Linked DNA regions of Homo sapiens. The protein of the gene in region 3 purifies or fractionates together with the protein of the main gene of each other region. This does not show direct contact. Each region holds a gene or a part of one and is shown on either strand. Other genes may lie near its edges.

What was found. Proteins that work in one complex are often made in the same cells at the same time.
Region 1: the proteins of ITGA4 (region 3) and IARS1 purify together in Homo sapiens (affinity purification with mass spectrometry, with the first as the bait; one study listed by BioGRID). This does not show direct contact.
Region 2: the proteins of ITGA4 (region 3) and HK2 purify together in Homo sapiens (affinity purification with mass spectrometry, with the first as the bait; one large-scale study listed by BioGRID). This does not show direct contact.
Region 4: the proteins of ITGA4 (region 3) and MYH10 purify together in Homo sapiens (affinity purification with mass spectrometry, with the first as the bait; one large-scale study listed by BioGRID). This does not show direct contact.

What each region holds. Positions count from the first base shown.
Region 1 is NC_000009.12:92,287,078-92,291,811, forward strand, and holds part of IARS1 (isoleucine--tRNA ligase, cytoplasmic), read right to left. Parts: intron 3,846-4,734; exon of another isoform or gene 3,759-3,845; intron 2,350-3,758; 5' UTR 2,343-2,349; coding exon 2,224-2,342; intron 1,206-2,223; coding exon 1,049-1,205; intron 897-1,048; coding exon of another isoform or gene 834-896; coding exon 714-833; intron 1-713. UniProt on the Homo sapiens protein: Catalyzes the specific attachment of an amino acid to its cognate tRNA in a 2 step reaction: the amino acid (AA) is first activated by ATP to form AA-AMP and then transferred to the acceptor end of the tRNA.
Region 2 is NC_000002.12:74,878,013-74,882,746, reverse strand, and holds part of HK2 (hexokinase-2), read right to left. Parts: intron 4,060-4,734; coding exon 3,826-4,059; intron 2,483-3,825; coding exon 2,178-2,482; intron 1,037-2,177; coding exon 888-1,036; intron 628-887; coding exon 508-627; coding exon of another isoform or gene 445-507; intron 1-444. UniProt on the Homo sapiens protein: Catalyzes the phosphorylation of hexose, such as D-glucose and D-fructose, to hexose 6-phosphate (D-glucose 6-phosphate and D-fructose 6-phosphate, respectively).
Region 3 is NC_000002.12:181,455,288-181,461,129, forward strand, and holds the start of ITGA4 (integrin alpha-4 isoform 1 preproprotein), read left to right. Parts: upstream 1-2,098; 5' UTR 2,099-2,367; coding exon 2,368-2,564; intron 2,565-2,908; coding exon 2,909-3,030; intron 3,031-5,842. UniProt on the Homo sapiens protein: Integrins alpha-4/beta-1 (VLA-4) and alpha-4/beta-7 are receptors for fibronectin. They recognize one or more domains within the alternatively spliced CS-1 and CS-5 regions of fibronectin. They are also receptors for VCAM1.
Region 4 is NC_000017.11:8,508,606-8,513,339, reverse strand, and holds part of MYH10 (myosin-10), read left to right. Parts: intron 1-28; exon of another isoform or gene 29-120; intron 121-682; coding exon 683-889; intron 890-2,154; exon of another isoform or gene 2,155-2,214; intron 2,215-3,390; coding exon 3,391-3,528; intron 3,529-4,251; exon of another isoform or gene 4,252-4,589; intron 4,590-4,662; coding exon 4,663-4,734. UniProt on the Homo sapiens protein: Cellular myosin that appears to play a role in cytokinesis, cell shape, and specialized functions such as secretion and capping. Involved with LARP6 in the stabilization of type I collagen mRNAs for CO1A1 and CO1A2.

The sequences.
Region 1 (4,734 bases), on a different chromosome or scaffold from region 3:
GACATAGCCGCAACACATGCCACCTGATATAATGCATTGAGAAGGGCATAGCATCACTTCTGTGGCATTGTCACCAAAAATGCATAACCTAAATTAAATCAGGAAACCTCACACATTGAGAGACATTATAGAAAATAGCTGTTCTGCAATCTTCAAAAGTGAGAAGGCCATGAAATACAAAGGACTAAATAAATGTTCCATACTTAAGAAGACTAAAAAGACATGACAACCAAATGCAATATGTGATTGGTCAGAAATAAAAATTAATGGGGCAACTGCTTTTGAAAATTCTATTAATATTATGGTTACCGAAGATGTTAGCAGCTGGGAAAGATGGATGAAGGATATAGGGGAACCCATCATACTACTTTTTCAATTGTTTAATAAGTCAAATTATTTCAAAATGAAAAGTTAAAAAAATTGAAAAAAGTATTTGAGAAAAAAAGAAAAGGCCTATATATCATGTTATACTTATTAGAATTTTTCCCTATTGGTGATCATGCAAGAAAGTTAGACCAATTAAGCACACAGAAGTCAGAAGAGAGATGGTTCAGTTTAAGCTAACCGTTTAAGTAATAGGGTTGAAGGTGGAAGCTAACACTTTTTCTACAAAAAATAAATTAATAAAAAAAGCACAAGGGACCATAAACCATTTCAATGCCCATTTAGTAACTACATTTGCTGTTCATTCTACTGAAAAAAACCCAACATACCTTCCACTCAGCAGAATATCTCATCACAATTGCTCGGCACTGATTGTTATACTCTGTAATCCCCATTTTGGCCACATCCTCTGGTCCTCTGATTCCCAGTGTCTTATCAATTTCATATTCCTGAAAATTTGTGATAAGACTGTTACCACGCTGCCCTATGAAAACAACTGCAACTATGCAACTCTAGAAAACAAAACAAATCAAACTACAAATATTATAGAAATGAACTAGAAGGTCTGACAGTCAACGTTCATCATACTTGAACATATTATATGACAAAATCTAATGCTTATAAAAAAAATCAGAAAATTATAAAGCTGGATACTCAAACATACCACAGGTAAGCCATGGCAATCCCATCCAAATCTTCTGTCAACATGAAACCCACTCTGGTGAGCATATCTTGTAACTATATCTTTAATTGTACCCGCAAGTATATGTCCATAGTGAGGCAGTCCAGTTGCAAAAGGAGGACCATCATAGAAGGTAAATCTAACAGGTAATAAAAATATATCAAGCCATTTAAAAACAGCCAAAATTTAAGGCATTTTTCTATAGATAGCTCTTGTCATAGTGGAGTCTTCAAGGAGAAAAGCAGCAAGATCAGGAAACCGACAGACATAATTGATTTGATATTTACTGGTGGTCCTGCCTTCAGAAAGGCTACAATTGTGGTAGAGCTACAGAGACCTCCATTTGATTATCCATTTTTCATTTATTAGTTCCATGACATAAGGCAAATTATTTATCCTGATCTTGAGTTATCTCATCAGTAAAATAGGGCAATAAACCCCTATCTCATAGTTTTTGACCAGAGGAGACATATAATGAAAACACTGATTAAAGGACTAGTCTTTTAGGTGAATGAGGACTAAAGGCAGGTAGTACTATAGTAGCCTTCTATGGGGTACTTAGGTATAAGTGCCTAAACGAGGGTGGTGATGAAAATAAAGGTGGAAAGAGGGTGACACGGAGGATGACACATAAATTTTACTCAGATGACCTTTTAAAGAAACAAAATTTACCCCAATAATTGAGAACTCATTCATTCAATGTATATCTACTACTGAGTACCCACTACATAGGGAGCTGGGGGATTCTGGGAATAGAAAGATTAATAAAGAGTATCTGCTTTAGGCCGCGCGTGATGGCTCACACTTGTAATCCCAGCACTTTGAGAGGCCGAGGTGGGTGGATCACTTGAGGTCAGGAGTCCGAGACCAGCCTGGGCAACATGGTGAAACCCCGTCTCTACTAAAACACAAGAATTAGCTGGTGTGATGGCGGGCACCTGTAATCCCAGCTACTCGGGAGGCTGAGGCAGGAGAATCACTTGCATCCGGGAGGCAGAGGTAGCAGTGAGCAGAGATTGCACCACTGCCCTCCAGCCTGGATGACAGTGCGAGACTCCATCTCAAAAAAAAAAAAAAAAAAAAAGTATCTGCTTTAATGGAATTCAGTCTAAGAAATGACTATTCTTAAGGGAACTTAACCTAAAAAATTCACATACTTTGGTTTATGTTTTGATTGCTTTAAGCATTCCTGAAAACAATTAAATTCAGTCCAAAACTCCAAGATTTTCTCTTCTTCAGCAGGAAAATTTATGTTTTCTGGAACTTGTTGAAGCATTTTGTTGCTGCAAAAGAAATCAAATTTATTACTGTCAAAAGAGAAATCTAGGAATAACAGAGTACCATATTATTAACATGGGTGTACATGACACTATCCATACTTTTAAAAAATTACAGCTTTATTGATGTACAATTTACATAGTGTAATGTAAAAAGTGTACAATTCAGTGGCTTTTTAGTATATTTACAAGGTAGTATAACTAGTAATACCTAATTTCAAAACGTTTTCAACCTCCCCTCCCCACCAAAACACCCCAAAACCATTAGCAGTCACTCCCCATTCTTTCTTCTCCATAGCCAGTGGCAACGATTTATCTTCTTTCTGTCCCTGCAGATTTACCTATTCTGGACATTTCATATAAATGGGAAAATTTATAGGAATCATCTATATGTGGCCTATTGCATCTGGTTTCCTTTCTCTAGCATGTTTTCAAGGCTCATCCATGATGTAATATGTATTCATACTTCATTACTTTTGATAGCTGAATAGTATTCCATTTCATGAATATGCCACATTTTGTTTATCCATTCATCATTTCTTGGATACCTGTATTGTTTCCACTTTTTGGTTATTACGAATAACGCTGCTATGAACATTCACATACAAAATTTTGTGTGGATCTATGTTTTCATTTCTCTTGGGTTTGTAGCTAGAAGTAGAATTTCTGGGTCACATGATAATTCTGTATTTAACTTTTTGAGAAAATGCCAAAATTTTTCCAAAGTGACTGTACTATTTTACATTCCCTCAGCAGTGAATGAGGATTCTAATTTCTTCAGATCTTACCCAACACATCTTATTGTCCATCTTTGAATTACAGTCATTCTAGGAGATGTTAAGTAGTATCTTGTGGTTTTGATTTGCATTTCCCTAAGGACTAATGATGCTGAGCATCTTTCCACATGCTTATTGGCCATTTGCGTATCCACGTTGGATAGATATTTATCCTTTGCCTATTTTCTAATTGGGCTCTTTTTGTGGTTGGGTTTTAAGGGTTATGTATACATCCTGGATACAAATCCTTTATCAGATATATGATTTATAAAAAATTTCTCCTGTTCTGTGGGCCGTCTTTTTATTTTCTTGATGGCATTTTTTGAAGCACAAAGATTTTTCATTTTAATGATGCCCAATTTGTCAATTTTTGGTTTTGCTGCTTGAGCTTTTGGTGTCATCAATAAACCATTACCTAAACAAGGTTATAGATTTTTCGCTTACATTTAGGCCACAAATAATTTTATTTTCGTATATGGTGTGAGGGAGGGGTACATGGCTATTATTTAATATTCAGTAATGGTAGAGACAATGTTTCCAAAAGTAAGCAGGAAAATCTTGGAAATTCTATCTAGTGGTGCAAAAAACTCATTAATAATCTGAAGAAAAATATCTCAAAGTAGTTAAGAATTTTCTTACCTACACTCACATGACAGAAATCAGTTCTCTTGAAGTAACTTCATCTTCTCTTTGAGGAAAACTGGTAAAACTTAAAAAATCTTAAAGCTAAAAAGATGAGAATCTCACATTCAAATATAGATTCCAGTTTTCCATTTTACCCTTTTTATTGCTTATTCATGATTTTTATGAAGGATGAGCCCTATACCTTTCTGGTTTAGTCCCTAATGAGAGAAGTCTTAAAGTGTCTTTTTAAATGTTTTGCTAATAACCTCATGCAGAGATACTTGATCAATCTATGACTTAAGTATCTAGTGAGCCACCCTTGAGACCTTTCCTTCTCAAAGTCTATTTATATTTACTTAACAATTCTAACAAGGTGGGTGACGAGCTTTCCAAGTCAGTATCAGATCAGAAGGGGATAAAATTGCTAATAAGGGAACAACAGAGAAGATAAAAAATCTTAAGTACTCAAGAACCACAACAGACCAGGGTAATCAACTCTACAGGAAAAGACACCTACATACCTCAAACAGTTTTGAAAGCATCAAAAGCATCATAGTCTAATCAAGTTATTGATTCAAGTTATCATTTAAAAAAAAGTCTGTGACAAGTAGTATCTTTCATTTTCTTTTACCCTCATTAATTTTTCAGATGTGTGAGTGCCTCTGAGTTTAATTTAAGAAAAAACAGGACAAGAACAGTTGGGCTGTTTAACTAACTGAAATAGCTATTTCTGATCACAGTATGCCATTAAAAGGTATTAAACAGAAGGTTTAAGGCATTTTAGATCTTCAACTCTTATTATAACCTCTAGCCTTTCAAGGACCAAAATAAGTGTTTGTGCATTTACTGATTTATTTAGGTTCATTGTGTACCTTATCAGAGGCCAACTGAAACTTATGGGATTGTTATCTGAAGACTAACAGACCTTTAGATACCAACACATTCTAATCTCTTCAAGGCTGGTCCTACTATGGCCCACATCTATGGGAGC
Region 2 (4,734 bases), about 110 Mb from region 3:
ATCTTCCTTTCTGTAGAATGGGTATTCAAACATATCTCTTATATGGTTGCTGTGAGGGTTAAACGAGATAATGCAGGTAAGAAACCTAACATAGTACCTGGCACACAGTAAGTGCTTAAAAATGCTATATATATATATATAAGTTCAATAGAGATGGGGTCTTCCTATGTTGCCTAGGCTAGTCTTGAAATCCTGGCCTCAAGTAATCCTCCTGCCTCAGCCTCCCAAAGTGCTGAGATTACAGGTATGAGTCACCACACCCGGCAGTTGTTAACATTGAGTAGCATCATCATCGTTGTCCCAAAGGCTGTCACAGCTGAGCTAACCTACTTAACCTCCACCAGCCTCAACTTACTCATTCCCATCAAGGAGCCCCTCCCCACTACTGGTAACTCACGCCCTCCTTTCCTTAGTCTTAGCTCAACTTTCTCCCCTGCTCCATACCTGGCTGGTTTTGTTTAGAGTCAATAAAGCCCACAGGAGAGCCCTCCAGGAAGGTGCTGTTACCTCGTCCAGGCTGTTCTGCTGGCAGGGGAAGGAGAAGGTAAAACCCAGAGGCAGGGACACGCCCTTCATGCCCATGTACTCGAGGAAGTCCGCGATGCACTGGACAATGTGGTCAAAGAGCTGCAGGGAGAAGTTAGGACACTGAGGGAGGGGCCCTGGGCAGGGCAGGCTGCCCCCAGTAGGGCCTGCGCACAACATCAATGTTTCTTTCCACCCAGAAGAAATGCAGGCTCAGGCACAAACCTGAGTCAAGACCAGGCTGCAGCCCTGGGTCCAGCTAGCCCTCCCCAGGGTCACAGATGAGCAGAGAAAGCACTGTCCTCGAAGGCAAGAGGTGACGTCCACCAGGGGCCCCCTCCTGAAGGCGCCGCCCTGCTCACCTCGTCCCCGGTGCCGTGCATGACCTCCTGCGGGATGGCGTAGATCTTGTTGTGCATCTCCACTCCACCCCACTTCCCATTCCGAACACGGACCAGCAGGACCCGGAAATTTGTTCCTCCAAGGTCCAAGGCCAAGAAGTCCCCTTTCTCTGGAAAATAAGCCCAGGGAAGTGATAAGTTGGGGCAGAACATGGGGAATGTGGAGACAGTACACTTAAAACGATCCAAATACACCATTCCTGTTCCATCAAATGCCACTTTATATTACATTCTAGAATACAGAAGGAACAGAAGAGTCCAGCTCCCTGAAGGAAGCTGAAGGGAAATCTTTTAAACTGAGAAAACCCTCCCTTGTTGGACAATTACAGTGTGCCACATGCTTCACACACAGTCCTCGTTCAACCCTTAGGCAGCCCTGTGAGGGAGACACTGCATTCCTCTCTTAAGGATGATTGGGATCTGGCTGATAGTTAAATCACTTGCCCGGGGCCATACGACCAGGACAGGGTAGAGCAGGGACCAAATCCCAGTCTGTCTCTGGAACCTGTAACAACTGTGCTACACTGGCCTGCTCATCGACTGTCTTCTCTGAATTGGAATAAGACCACCATTTCTGAGGTTACAAGACTTACAGCAGGGGTCAGAAATCTTTTTCTGTAAAGGCCCAGACAGCAAACGTTTTAGGCCCTGTGGGTCATGCAGTCTTTGCTGCCACCACTCAACTTTGCCAAGACAGTGCAAAACAACCATAAGCAACGTGCAGACGCATGGGCATGGCTGTGTAATAAAACCTTATGTACAAAAACAGGTGGTGGGCCAGATTCAGCCCATGGGCCATAGTTTGCCAACCCTGACTCAGACCAATGTGGTGATTGCAAGAGCAGATTCTAGAACCTGAATTCCTGGGTTTGAATCCCAGCTCCGACATTTTCTAGTTGTGTGAATTTAGGCAGGTGTCTTAACTTCTCTGCGCCTCAGTTTTCTGTCAAACATAGGTGAATACATAAAATTAACTGCTAATATTTTTTAACAGTTAACAAAGATTAAATGAGCTCATACACATAAAGTGCTTTGACACACAGTAAGCATTCAATAAGTGTTGACCATTACTACTGTTTGCAGAGGAGCACCTTGTTTGAGTTTATCAAAGACTAGAACTCCCTAGTAATACGGCTGAAGAAACGTGTTCTGGTTCAAATGTCCAATGCTAATGCTAAGGGATCCCTCCCAGGGTATCAACACCAGGACAAAGGCCCACCATGTGAGCCAGGTGGCAACCCTGCCGTGTACCTGTGCCGTCCGGGGTAGCACACACGTAGGTGGGCAGCATCTTGACGGGGGCACTGGCATGAGTCTCCTTGCTCAGACCTCGCTCCATTTCTACCTTCATCCTCCTCTTGACCTCCAGCAGCTGGTCATGGCTCAGCTGCAGATGCTCTAATGTCTTCTGGCGGGCACGGTGTTGATCGGCCAGCCGGTAAGCCACTGCTGTCACCATGGCTGCACCTTTGCCACTGCCATCCTCGGAGCGGAGGAAGCGGACATCGCAGCCGGGCACCAGCCGCCGCACGGTCTTATGTAGACGCTTGGCAAAACTGCAGTTCCCCAGGGCGGGTAAGAGACAGGTGTCCATGGTTAGGGTCAATGGTGCAAATAGTTAGACAGTTGCCCACCGCCTTAATCCAAATGCCAAAAGGCACCTGCAGGAGTGGGTGCTGCCCTAAACATCCTCTCTCCACTGTCCCAAGTTAGGAACCACTACAAGAACCATATCAACTATGACCACCCAGGATTGGTTCACCCCCGCCAATGAAAGGAAAAGACCTTTTAATAAGCCACTGTCCCCTACATGCAGCCACACAAGACCTCCTCTTCCTCACTGAAGAAGGCCCCCTGGCCACTGCTCCCTTGCCCAACATGGTACCATCAGCCTCTTTGCTGGAGCAGCCCTGTGGTATTAGGTGGTTCTGATGCCACCTATCTGTCTTGTTCTATCACTCATTTCACTAGCTGCTGTCTGGGAAAGACCCAAAATTAAAAGCTAGAGATGCTCTTCTGGACTTTAGCCTCTCTTTTGCCAGTTTCTGCCAATGATCCCAAAGGTGTCTGCACAGCTAAAGACAACGTGTTCAGCCAGGAACTCTCTGGGTAGTGGCCACTTGGAGCCATGGTCTCCAGGGCCTTCCTACTCCAAGTGCAGGAGTAGGCTGCAGCCTACTGGGGGCTGTTAGAGATGCGGGATCTCAGACTCACCCCAGACCTTCTGATCAGAATCTGCCTCTTAGCAAGATCCCCATGTGATTCACGTGCACACTCGAGTTTTTGCAACACTGGGTAGGAAGAGGGAATCTCAGGGCTGAGGCCTCCTGCACCGACAAGTTAAGAAAACAAAGGCACATTGACCTGGCATTCTTATTAGGTGAAAATGATGGGGAAATAAGTAGGCACAATAAAGAGACATCTTCCAGGTCTCAGCTGACATGTGAATATTCTGGTACCTATGACCTGAGGGATCAAAATGTGGACAGGGCAGGATCAATTTAATACCAAGGTCAGCCAGAGAAGCTGGTAACCCTCACTGGGCTGGGGTGGTCCCTGGCAGAGGACATAGCACCTGCAGGAATCACCAAGAATTCTAAGAGTAAAGACAGGAACAATAACGCATACAAGAGGGTGGCAAAGAGAGTGTCCAGCAGCCAGAGGAGCTCTGCGGAGAGCCCGAGTCATCAGTAGCCTTCAGAAATCACCTCCACCCACACCAGATATGACTTCCTCCCATTCCCCCTTGCCCAGGTGGGAACTTTCATTCCACCAAGACCCTCAGCTCTATGGTCCCTCCACACCACCCCTGAAATGCAAAATGGAGCTGGCATGAGGAGTCACTCAGCCCCAGGTACTCCAGGAACTCCGCATCTCCAGGCCCTGCACACTGACTCACTGGGGGTGTTTCTTGTAGACGGAACCGTCGACCCCAATAGTAGAGCGCAGCCGCTCCTCGCCTTTGTTCTCCTTGATGCGCTGCAGCACGGCGGCCAGGGTGGCTGCGCACAGGCTGGCGGAGCGTGTGGACACGATCTGGCAGATCCGGTGAGTGGCCACGCAGTCCTCCTGAGTCGGGTCCAGGCCCAACCGCATCAGGACCTCACGGGCCTTCCGGATGCCATCCTTCTCCCTGGGAAACAGAAAGATAGCATGTGGGCCTGTGTCTGACCCACTGTGGCCAGTGTGTGTGTCGGGGGGTGGCAAGGAAGCCCTTTAGTTCCAGCAAATTCACCACCCAGTGGGGACAGAATCCCTCTTCATTGCTTAGTCCACCTGTGCAGGGGCAGGAGGAGGAGGAAGGGGGTGCAAAATATAGCACAGCCACCCTGAGGCTCCTCTCCCAGACACCACACACACACGCACACGCATGTGCGTGCGCACACACACACACACACACACACACAGAGACACACGGAGTTGAGAAACACAAGTATTTCTTATGCATGTGCTATGTAAAAACAAGGCCCTGTTCTTGGTGCTTTACCACCAAGTTGTGTGTGTGAGAGTTTGTGTTACATCTGCTTGTGTTAGGGGAGACAGACAGTGTCTCTGCTGTCAGCCACTCTCAACATGTGAACCCTGCGGTGATGCCCACCTGGTTTCTCTCTCTAAAGCAGTAGGAGTCTATTGCATTTCACCATGGACTTGGCACTGCTTTAGCTTGTGTCTAAAGATGGTTGGTAAGGGGCTAGTGCTATAACCTTAGCACCCTTCTCAAGGGAACTAAATCTTGCATCACCTTGGGGTACTTGCATCACCTTGGGGTATAGCAACAAGTAGGCCCCATTCCTTCAAGAGTTTCCCC
Region 3 (5,842 bases):
TTGGCCTCAACTGGAGGTTTTGTAGCTGTAAACAAGAAGGATTGCATAGTTCAGAATAACGACACTGTAAGCTCATTGTGGAACTGGGTTAAAATCAGCATGTAGATCTACTAAGAAAGAAACACACTCAGCACTACTACAGAAAGAAACAGCCATGGGCCCTGATTGTTAGCTTTCTGGAAGCCATTTCATTTTTACAATAGATTTATCACACACTGTATTGACTTTTTCCAGTATAGAGTAAGAGAAAGTTAATATTCCTCATGTTTTGTCTGTTGACAGACTGAAAATAATTGCATTGAGTTTGGCTAGAATATCCTGTCATTCCATAAACATCTCAAACTCCACATGGCTAAAACTTAACCCATCCATGCCCCCATCTGCATGCACACATACATGCATATAACTTCATTTCTCAGTGTTTTTTTCTCCATGAATGGTAGCACCATTCTCTTTCAAGAAAGAGAAATACTTCCCCTTGGGATTATCCTATCTCTACTTATTGCTGCAGGGGCTTCCAAAATTAGGTTTTCTGTGTTCAGTCTTGCATTCACACTTCTGAAACCCAGAGCTGACCGAGACAAATTCTTCAACTTCCTGTCAGTCCCAACATAGATTTAAAATTCCTAACCTGGCTCATGAGGTTCACCATGTATTCCTGCTTCCCTAAGTCAGCCTCATATCACACCAACCTGTGTGTGGAGTGGCTAAATACTCTAGCCAGGCAAGCTCTCTCAGTTCTTCTACCTGGCTCCTCTGGAGCCCTCCTTATTGCTCATCCCATTCTTAGCCTGATTCAAGATTCCTGGTCCTTCAAATCTCTCTTTAAGTGTCCTTACCTGGATCTTTCTCTAGTTAGTACAAATTTTTCTATCTACCATTGGAGCGAACATTTTTTGAAACTTTGTATCAGTCCTGCCTTACTCTTGGTGGAATCCTGTGGTCCTAGTCAAGTGCCTGCTCCATGAATGTGCTGAATAAATGAATAAGCATTTTAATTGTGTATCTGTCATTAGTGTCAGATGTGTTATTTATTCCAGCATGGTTTTAGCACACAGACACACTCTTTGATGCAGACTTTTCTTTTCTTTTTACATATAGCAACAATAAAAAACTAGACTTTCATCTCCTGAAAATATCAGTCTAATAATCACCTATGGCTGTCTCTCTGGTTGCTGAAGGAAAAAAAAAAAAAAGGCAGGGCACACCTGGATTGCATTAGAATGAGACTCACTACCCAGTTCAGGTGTGTTGCGTTGTGGGTCTCCGGCACATTTCAGAGGCTCATTAGGACCCTGACCCCACACTGGGGTTTACACCCCTAAAAGCAGGTGTGTCCCGTGGCAACTGAGTGGGTGCGTGAAAAGGGGGGATCATCAATTACCAGCTGGAGCAATCCGAATCGGTTAAAGTGAATCAAGTCACAGTGCTTCCTTAACCCAACCTCTCTGTTGGGGTCAGCCACAGCCTAAACCGCCTGCCGTTCAGCCTGAGAGGCTGCTGCTAGCCTGCTCACGCATGCAGCCCGGGCTGCAGAGGAAGTGTGGGGAGGAAGGAAGTGGGTATAGAAGGGTGCTGAGATGTGGGTCTTGAAGAGAATAGCCATAACGTCTTTGTCACTAAAATGTTCCCCAGGGGCCTTCGGCGAGTCTTTTTGTTTGGTTTTTTGTTTTTAATCTGTGGCTCTTGATAATTTATCTAGTGGTTGCCTACACCTGAAAAACAAGACACAGTGTTTAACTATCAACGAAAGAACTGGACGGCTCCCCGCCGCAGTCCCACTCCCCGAGTTTGTGGCTGGCATTTGGGCCACGCCGGGCTGGGCGGTCACAGCGAGGGGCGCGCAGTTTGGGGTCACACAGCTCCGCTTCTAGGCCCCAACCACCGTTAAAAGGGGAAGCCCGTGCCCCATCAGGTCCGCTCTTGCTGAGCCCAGAGCCATCCCGCGCTCTGCGGGCTGGGAGGCCCGGGCCAGGACGCGAGTCCTGCGCAGCCGAGGTTCCCCAGCGCCCCCTGCAGCCGCGCGTAGGCAGAGACGGAGCCCGGCCCTGCGCCTCCGCACCACGCCCGGGACCCCACCCAGCGGCCCGTACCCGGAGAAGCAGCGCGAGCACCCGAAGCTCCCGGCTGGCGGCAGAAACCGGGAGTGGGGCCGGGCGAGTGCGCGGCATCCCAGGCCGGCCCGAACGCTCCGCCCGCGGTGGGCCGACTTCCCCTCCTCTTCCCTCTCTCCTTCCTTTAGCCCGCTGGCGCCGGACACGCTGCGCCTCATCTCTTGGGGCGTTCTTCCCCGTTGGCCAACCGTCGCATCCCGTGCAACTTTGGGGTAGTGGCCGTTTAGTGTTGAATGTTCCCCACCGAGAGCGCATGGCTTGGGAAGCGAGGCGCGAACCCGGCCCCCGAAGGGCCGCCGTCCGGGAGACGGTGATGCTGTTGCTGTGCCTGGGGGTCCCGACCGGCCGCCCCTACAACGTGGACACTGAGAGCGCGCTGCTTTACCAGGGCCCCCACAACACGCTGTTCGGCTACTCGGTCGTGCTGCACAGCCACGGGGCGAACCGATGGTGAGTAGAGTTGGACTGATGCGCCCTCAGCAGCTCAGAGCGGCGTGAGAATGGCGCCCTAGGGATTCCCTGCCCGATTCAAACTTTCCTCCCTCCCAAGGAGGCAGGAGGGAAACGCTGCGAGAGCCAGCTCGCTGGAAATCTGCCAGGGAAACTAACTTATCTTGGGGCGGCAGCGCCCCGGGTGCGTTATGGTGCAAGGTCTTGGAGCTTCGAGTCGGGGGTGGTGGGCGGAGGAGGAGGTGGGGAAGCTGCCCTGCTGCGGACTGCACATCTGTGGCGACAGGGAGCTCAGTGGGCAGCACAGCTCACGTCTGAGCGCACGTGCACGTGTCTCGCTTTAGGCTCCTAGTGGGTGCGCCCACTGCCAACTGGCTCGCCAACGCTTCAGTGATCAATCCCGGGGCGATTTACAGATGCAGGATCGGAAAGAATCCCGGCCAGACGTGCGAACAGCTCCAGCTGGGTGAGTTGGGTATGGGACCAGGAGTTAGTGACCTCCCGACCCCCCATGTGGACCCCACCATAGGGCAAGTCCTGGAAAGATTCACGTTGCCTGTTACTTCTGGTTTAAAGAGCATAAAGTTTTCAGTTTCAACTCCATCTCATCTTGCCTCCTTAATATAAAAGGGATTCCCTTTCTGTTAATATCGTTCTCCCTTTTCCTTATGGCAATGATTGCAGTACTCTGACAACTATGCTAGAGAAATTTCTTATGATACCTTCTCTTCATCTCTCCCCGTCTCTCCGTGTGTAAAGCACATTTTAGACTCTCTCAGCGTATTAAGGACAGGATCCAGCTAAGCCAAGACTTGAGAATTTTATTTCCATCTTTGACCTATCAACCCTCTTAAAGAACAGGCTAAGGAGCATATCAGGAATAGCAATTGGAATTGATCCCATATCCCGTCGTTTAACCTAAAGGCCTAAAAAAAAAAGTGATAGTTTTACTTACAATATACAATCTAAAAGAAAAGGAAAATTGGCATCTTCATCGTTAATGTAGTATAATTTTCCATTCCCAAAACCGTCATCCAAAACTCATGTTATATGGGTCCATCTTTTTGCAGTCATTTCTCAATGTCTCAGATTTGTGACAAGTTGAAAAATGTGTACTGATAGAGGGGAGAAGTTTCATGTTTCAAAGCCAAAGACAAGTTTGTTGCACACAGGCAAGTGGGGAAAGAGGAAGGAATATTAAATAACAAGACCTATCTTGTTCCAAAGTGTTACTGCTATATATATTGCTTAACTTTTTTCCCCTTAAAGCAACCCTGGGTCATGGTTGACATTGTTCCTAGTTTATGTATGAGGACTGTGGCTCAGAGTTGCAAATACCTTTTTAAAAGTTACTTAGCTAGTGACTGATAGGTGGGAACTAAAGTCAAACTAGGGTCTGAATGCGTCCAAAGTCTAAGCCATTTTCTTCCATGTATGTATCTTCAATGCAAATAAAATTAAGTGAATGGTTTAATATGTTGTCTGCTGAGCTGATGGGTCATCTGTAAACGGTGAATAAAATTGGTACTTCTTTATATTTCTTTGCTATAAATGGACTTTTGAGATTAGTTATTGGATCTTTAACTTCTTTTGTATTTTATAGTAGTCTTTGCTCTTTTTCAAACTGTGAAGCTGGTTCCCTTCATTCAGATGAATTCAGATAGAGTATAAACATAATGGAATTTTTACTTTTAACTCAGAGCACCTATAAAAGTCTACGAGTTGTCTGTAGCATGTAGAATAAGCCCTAGCCTCTTGTTAAGCATCCTCAATACCAGAAATCACAGTAGGAATGCATAAAACATTCACAGACCCATACATTTTGGAATGATTTTGCAAAGCATAATTTTCATTGCATGAGAGAGTTGTGGGTGAAGAATTAGGGAGTGGAGCCGACAACTTTGGTCTGCCAGAGGATCTTGGCAAGGTCTCAGGAGGGAGCAATTTTATTTCTGTTGTCCTGTCATAGTTTCCTGATCCATGACATTATAACTACTGATATTTAGTGCCTACTTCCTGTCTGGATGGACACTGAATCTATTTCTGGATGTCTGTGTTTAACTGGATAAATCATGACATAATACTGTATTAAATTTAAGATAATGCCTGTCAATGGAAGGAAAAAATTGTTTGGGCATGTGTAGCATGGGAGTTGACTGTTCTCAGAGAAATGTAAACATAGTAGATATGTCATAGATATGAATTAAATGAAGATCTTTTGGATGGATGAATGAATAAAAGTGGAGTGAAAATTTATCAACCTGACTGATGAGTAAGATAATTGATTAGAAATGATGAGCCAAACTGATTTTTAACTTTCAAAATTTTGGCCAATCTACAAGGTATTTACTGGGATGAAAGGAAAAAAGGCAAGATTCCTAGTCAGTCAATGAGTTAAAACATTAATAGTGATAGTAATGCCTTGAGTATTTGCCGAAGAGTTGACTGAAGTTATTTCTCATGTAACATTCTAAAGAATACAGATATCTTTTATTCCTCATGTAAAGAAACTGCCTCTCTATTCAGAATAAATTCAGTGGTAGCTTGAAGCTATAAAATAGGGATTGAGGCTACAGTCTAGAAATAAAACACTAAAAACAATACATTGGTAATAAAGATAATTTAGGATTCTTAGGTTTGTGGGCTATGCACTATTTTGTATGAAGAAGTTTCAAGAGTGTGTGTAAATATATATAAGCCATCTTCTGTAGAAGAGTGTGTGTGTGTGTGTGTGTGTGTGTGTGTGTGTGTGAATCTTCTGTATAAAATAGCTTCAGTTGTCCTGTTTCAAATGTGGGTGACTCTAATGTTTCAAAAATGCTTAGCTCAGTACTGACACATAATACATTCAAAAAATAGTGGTTCTTCTTTATTGTTTACTTAAATCTATTATCTGTATGTTATCTGTAACAAGCAGGCTGAGGTTAATAGGGACAATTGATAAACTGAACCAAAAGTTTAAAAATTAAAAGGTAATACATTAAAAGGTAGAAGTTGAAATGAAACACAATGAGAAATTTTTGTTGGCTGAAGAAAAAAATGTTATAATGATTAAAGATCGATCTGTGATTGCCATGTCAGTAAGGTATCTTCTTTCCTTTGGAATAGCTTTACTTGCTATCAAGAACCTGAAGGTGTAGGGTCTTCAAATGGTGCCCATCTCCCACACAATTAAAAATATCCACATGGACTAGTCTTTGAGTCTCTGTAGAATTTCAGATCAGTGGTTGATTCAGATAGACTCCTCCCCTCAAAAGAGAAGGTCCATATCTCGCCTA
Region 4 (4,734 bases), on a different chromosome or scaffold from region 3:
GATTTGTAGAAGTTAAAATCAACCTTACCTCTTGCATCTTTGCTTTTGTTATTCTTGGTGTCAAGCATGTACTTAACACCTGTTTTCGATGAGGTTCCCGGTACTGTCACCTTCCTATGTCTGTTTATGAGGGGAAATAGAAAAATGGTCAAAGGACGAGATGCTTGAGTAGAGGTCACCACCTGAACTTCTCTAGCAGCAGTGGTCTTGAATGTGTGTCCCTCTTCTGGGAAGTTTTCTTCATGGACAAAGCTGAGGCTCAGGAGATGTTTGTTGTGGCAATAATAGAATTATAGTGTTCAAGGCCAAAAATATTAACAATAAAGGCCAAGGATATCACTTACTACCAAACAGGCATTAGTAATCACCATGAACTTTATGGCATTTGAATAATATTTTCACTCTCCTATTTATCTGTCCCTTGTAAATTACCTTCATAGATGAACTATCATGAATTTAATATGTATTATTCACAGTAACTTGAGACAACAGGAACAACCAAAATATTTTCATCTTGCTTATTTTGCTATAGACAAAAACGTATTTGAAAGTTCTTCCCGTGATGTTATATATTTTTATCTCCCAGTTTCTTTGATGTGCATTGACCATTGAAATCACGGCGAATATATACTGTGTACGTATGTAATAGGGGCAAATCACAGACACTTTATTGTGATTGCAGCTTTTAGAAGAGAAGAATATCCTTGCAGAACAACTACAAGCAGAGACTGAGCTCTTTGCTGAAGCAGAAGAGATGAGGGCAAGACTTGCTGCTAAAAAGCAGGAATTAGAAGAGATTCTACATGACTTGGAGTCTAGGGTTGAAGAAGAAGAAGAAAGAAACCAAATCCTCCAAAATGAAAAGAAAAAAATGCAAGCACATATTCAGGTATGTATAATAATTTTTACTTAGAAGCATATTTTGGATTTTCAAGTGGATCTGTTGAATAAACAGAAGTTATGTGTTTGGATTCTTAAGTCCACAGAGAAGCAAAAGGGTTCTGGGTTATGAGAAGCCACTCTTAGAAAGATGACCATCATTTGAAACACACCTATAATAGATTTTCTTTGAACAAAGATTTGTCATTTTGTATAGGAATCTTTTTTATGTTCTAAGTGGCATCTTACAGTTTGCAAAGAGATTCACAGTCGCAAACCTCCCAGGATCTATAGCATTCTGTAGAAGACCTAACTTGTTCTTCATGTTGTCAGTGATTCTGTTGCTCACTCCATTCATTAGATAGACATCTACTACGTGGTTTGGCTAATAAGAAACGCTCAGCACTGACATAGGAGGTGGCCAACAGTCAGAATGAGAATTTTTAAAAATTAGCCCTTCCCTGGTACTTAACTTTCTTTTTGAAATACAGGCTGTACTCATGAGGCACAATTTTTGGATTGTGATTGAAACAGACAAATGTGCTTTTTAAATGGTCTTTATATTTTAGAGGTACAGCCTGAAGGTTTTACAAGTGAAATATGATGTCTGGGATTTGCTTCAAAATAACCTAGGGGGAGAAGGGAGCAGGTGGAGGCACACATGAAATGGAATTGACCATGAGTTGATGCTTGTTAAGGTCAAGGTGATGCTTCTGTGTGGGGCTTATTATGCTGGTCTGTGTGCTTGTATGTGTGTTTGAAATTTTTACAAGAAAACACTCATTTTTTGCCATGGTTTCATTCTAAAATTAACGATGAGTAAATTATTTAGCCGAAGTTACTCTTGAACATTTCCTTAAGTTGGCCATGTGTTGATTTGTACAACCCTAGTTTTGGTTTTTTGGGGTTTGTTTTTGTTTTTGTTTTTTTGTTCTGTTTTTGAGACGGAGTCTCGCTTTGTTGCCCAGGCTGGAGTGCAATGGCGCAATCTCGGCTCACTGCAACCTCCACCTCCTCGGTTCAAGTGATTCCCTTGCCTCAGCCTCCCCAGTAGCTGGGATTACAGGCGCCTGCTACCACGCCCAGCTAATTTTTGTATTTTTAGTAGAGACGAGGTTTCACCACGTTGGCCAGGCTGGTCTCGAACTCTTGACCTCAGGTGATCCACCCACCTCGGCCTCCCAAAGTGCTAGGACTACAGGCGTGAGCCACTGCGCCCAGCCTGGGTTTTGTTTTGTTTAACTTTTTTTTTAATTTCGTTTTTTGGAGGGGATGGGAGCTTTCCACCAGAAACCAGAAATCCTGCTAGACAAATTCTAAAAGAGCTGTAACACTTTGTTTTTAATTTTAATTTTTATGCGTATATATTAAGTGTGTGTGTGTGTATGTATGTATGTGTGTATATATATATATATATATATATATATATATATATATATATATATGGGGTACATGAGATGTTTTGATACAGGCATGTAGTGTGTAATAATCACCTCATATAAAATGGGGTAATCTATCTGTGATCCTGTGTAATAGCATGTTTATCATAAACAGTAATGTAGATTATAAAGATCTGCACGTTCTAATAAAAATACATGTAAACTCTATGCTCCCGCCCAGTTTGATGAGGTGCTTCTGCTGTGAAAGGTACACTTGAACTGAGACAGCTCATTTCTCACGACCTGTACTATTTAAATTATTGTTTTCATGTTCTCTTTCTCTCTTCTTTGGCCGAACATGTATATAGTTGGATTCAGCTAAATTAAATACACATTTGATGAGTGCTACTACATTATTCATGTTTGTCTGTGTTGCTATTATTCCAAAATGTGAATTTTAATTACTATATATTATTCCATTTAACAAATGTGCCAACATTTAATTACCAAGACCTTTTTGTAGCATGTTCATAGTTACTCAATATTATAAATAACTTATCACTGTATGTCTTTTTATATAAATTGCATCTGTGACAATTTCCTGAAATTGCTGGTTGAAAGGAAAGGCTCATTTTTAAAGCTATGTTTTGCCATGTTGGCTTCTAGAAGGATTGACCCAGTTTGTACTTTAGCCTGTAGCGGATACAAATGTCTATTTCACATAACTGCATTTCATATTTTTTTAAATATCCTTGGCATTTTGAGAATCAAAAATTAGTATCTAGGCTGAGGCGGATGGATCATGAGGTCAGGAGATCAAGACCATCCTGGCTAACATGGTGAAACCCCATCTCTACCAAAAAAAAAATCAAAAAATTAGCCGGGCGTGGTGGCGGGCACCTGTAGTCCCAGCTACTCGGGAGGCTGAGGCAGGAGAATGGCGTGAACCCAGGAGGTGGAGGTTGCAGCGAGCCGAGGTGGCACCACTGCACTTCAGCCTGGGCAACAGAGCGAGACTCCGTGTCAAAAAAAAAAAAAAAATTAGTATCTCATTGTAATGCATTCCTGTGCACAATGAATGTGTGGTCAAATCTCGAGAAAGTGGCGAGACTGACTGTGTGTTCTTCACAAGGACCTGGAAGAACAGCTAGACGAGGAGGAAGGGGCTCGGCAAAAGCTGCAGCTGGAAAAGGTGACAGCAGAGGCCAAGATCAAGAAGATGGAAGAGGAGATTCTGCTTCTCGAGGACCAAAATTCCAAGTTCATCAAAGTAAGAGAGTGTTCCCACAAAAAGCTGATTTTAGTTACAGAAAATATTTATATAATATTATGTTGATACACTCATTGAAAGTGAACTCAAACAGAAATTTCTCAAGATTTTAGGTTCATTTACTGAATTTTCTCTGTAAGTCTCTACTTGTATAGATTTCTAAAGATACAGGCACCATTGAATTTTTTAAACCTTATCAAATATCCTGATAATCTTTTAGACTTGTAACATGTGCAGTTTGTGCATAATGGTCACTCAATGATGACTTGTCTCCATCTGTGCAAGCATTAATTCATCCACCATTGACTGTGGGACTCTGAATACCAGGCAGCTGGGCCAAGCTCCCGGGGTGGGCACCAAGACGTGTAAGCCTTTCTGCCCTTTTGGAGTACAGTCGTGTGTTGTTTAACGATGAGGACACATTCTGGGAAATGCATTGTGAAGTTATTTTATCCTCGTACAAACATCATAGAGTGTATGGACACAAACTAGATGGTAGAGCCTGCTATACACCTAGACCAGACGCTGGGCTGATTGCATCTAGGCCACACACTTGTACAGCATGTTACTGTCCTGAATACTGTAGGCAGTTGGAACACAGTGCTAATAAGTACTTGTGTATCTAAACATATCCACACAAAAGTCCAGTAAAAATATGATAGAAAAGGTACGGTAAAAATGATAGAAAAGATTTAAAATGGCACACCTCTATTGGGCACTCACCATGAACGGAGCTTGCAGGACTGGAAGCTGCTCTGGGTGAGTCAGTGAGTGAGCGCTGAGTGAATGTGAAGGCCTAGGACATTGCTGTACATGACTGCAGACTTTATCAACATGGCACACTGAGGCTGCAGTACATTTATTTTAAAAATAGAGTAATTGCACTGTGGTGTTATGACAGCTCTCGATGAAGTTTTCAGCTCCATGATCATCTTAGGAGACCACTGTCGTGTATCCGGTTCATCATTGTCCAAAACATCGTTCTGCAGCATGTGATTGTGTACAGTCTGCTGGGGGAGGCAGTGCCGATAGAACTTATTTTCTCTCGAGTCAAAGTTGACCTTTATGAGGAATACAGAACCCAAGTGGTCATTCTGAATGGCTTTTCTGAAGCAGTCAATTTTTCCTGTCCAGGAAAAGAAACTCATGGAAGATCGCATTGCTGAGTGTTCCTCTCAGCTGGCTGAAGAGGAAGAAAAGGCGAAA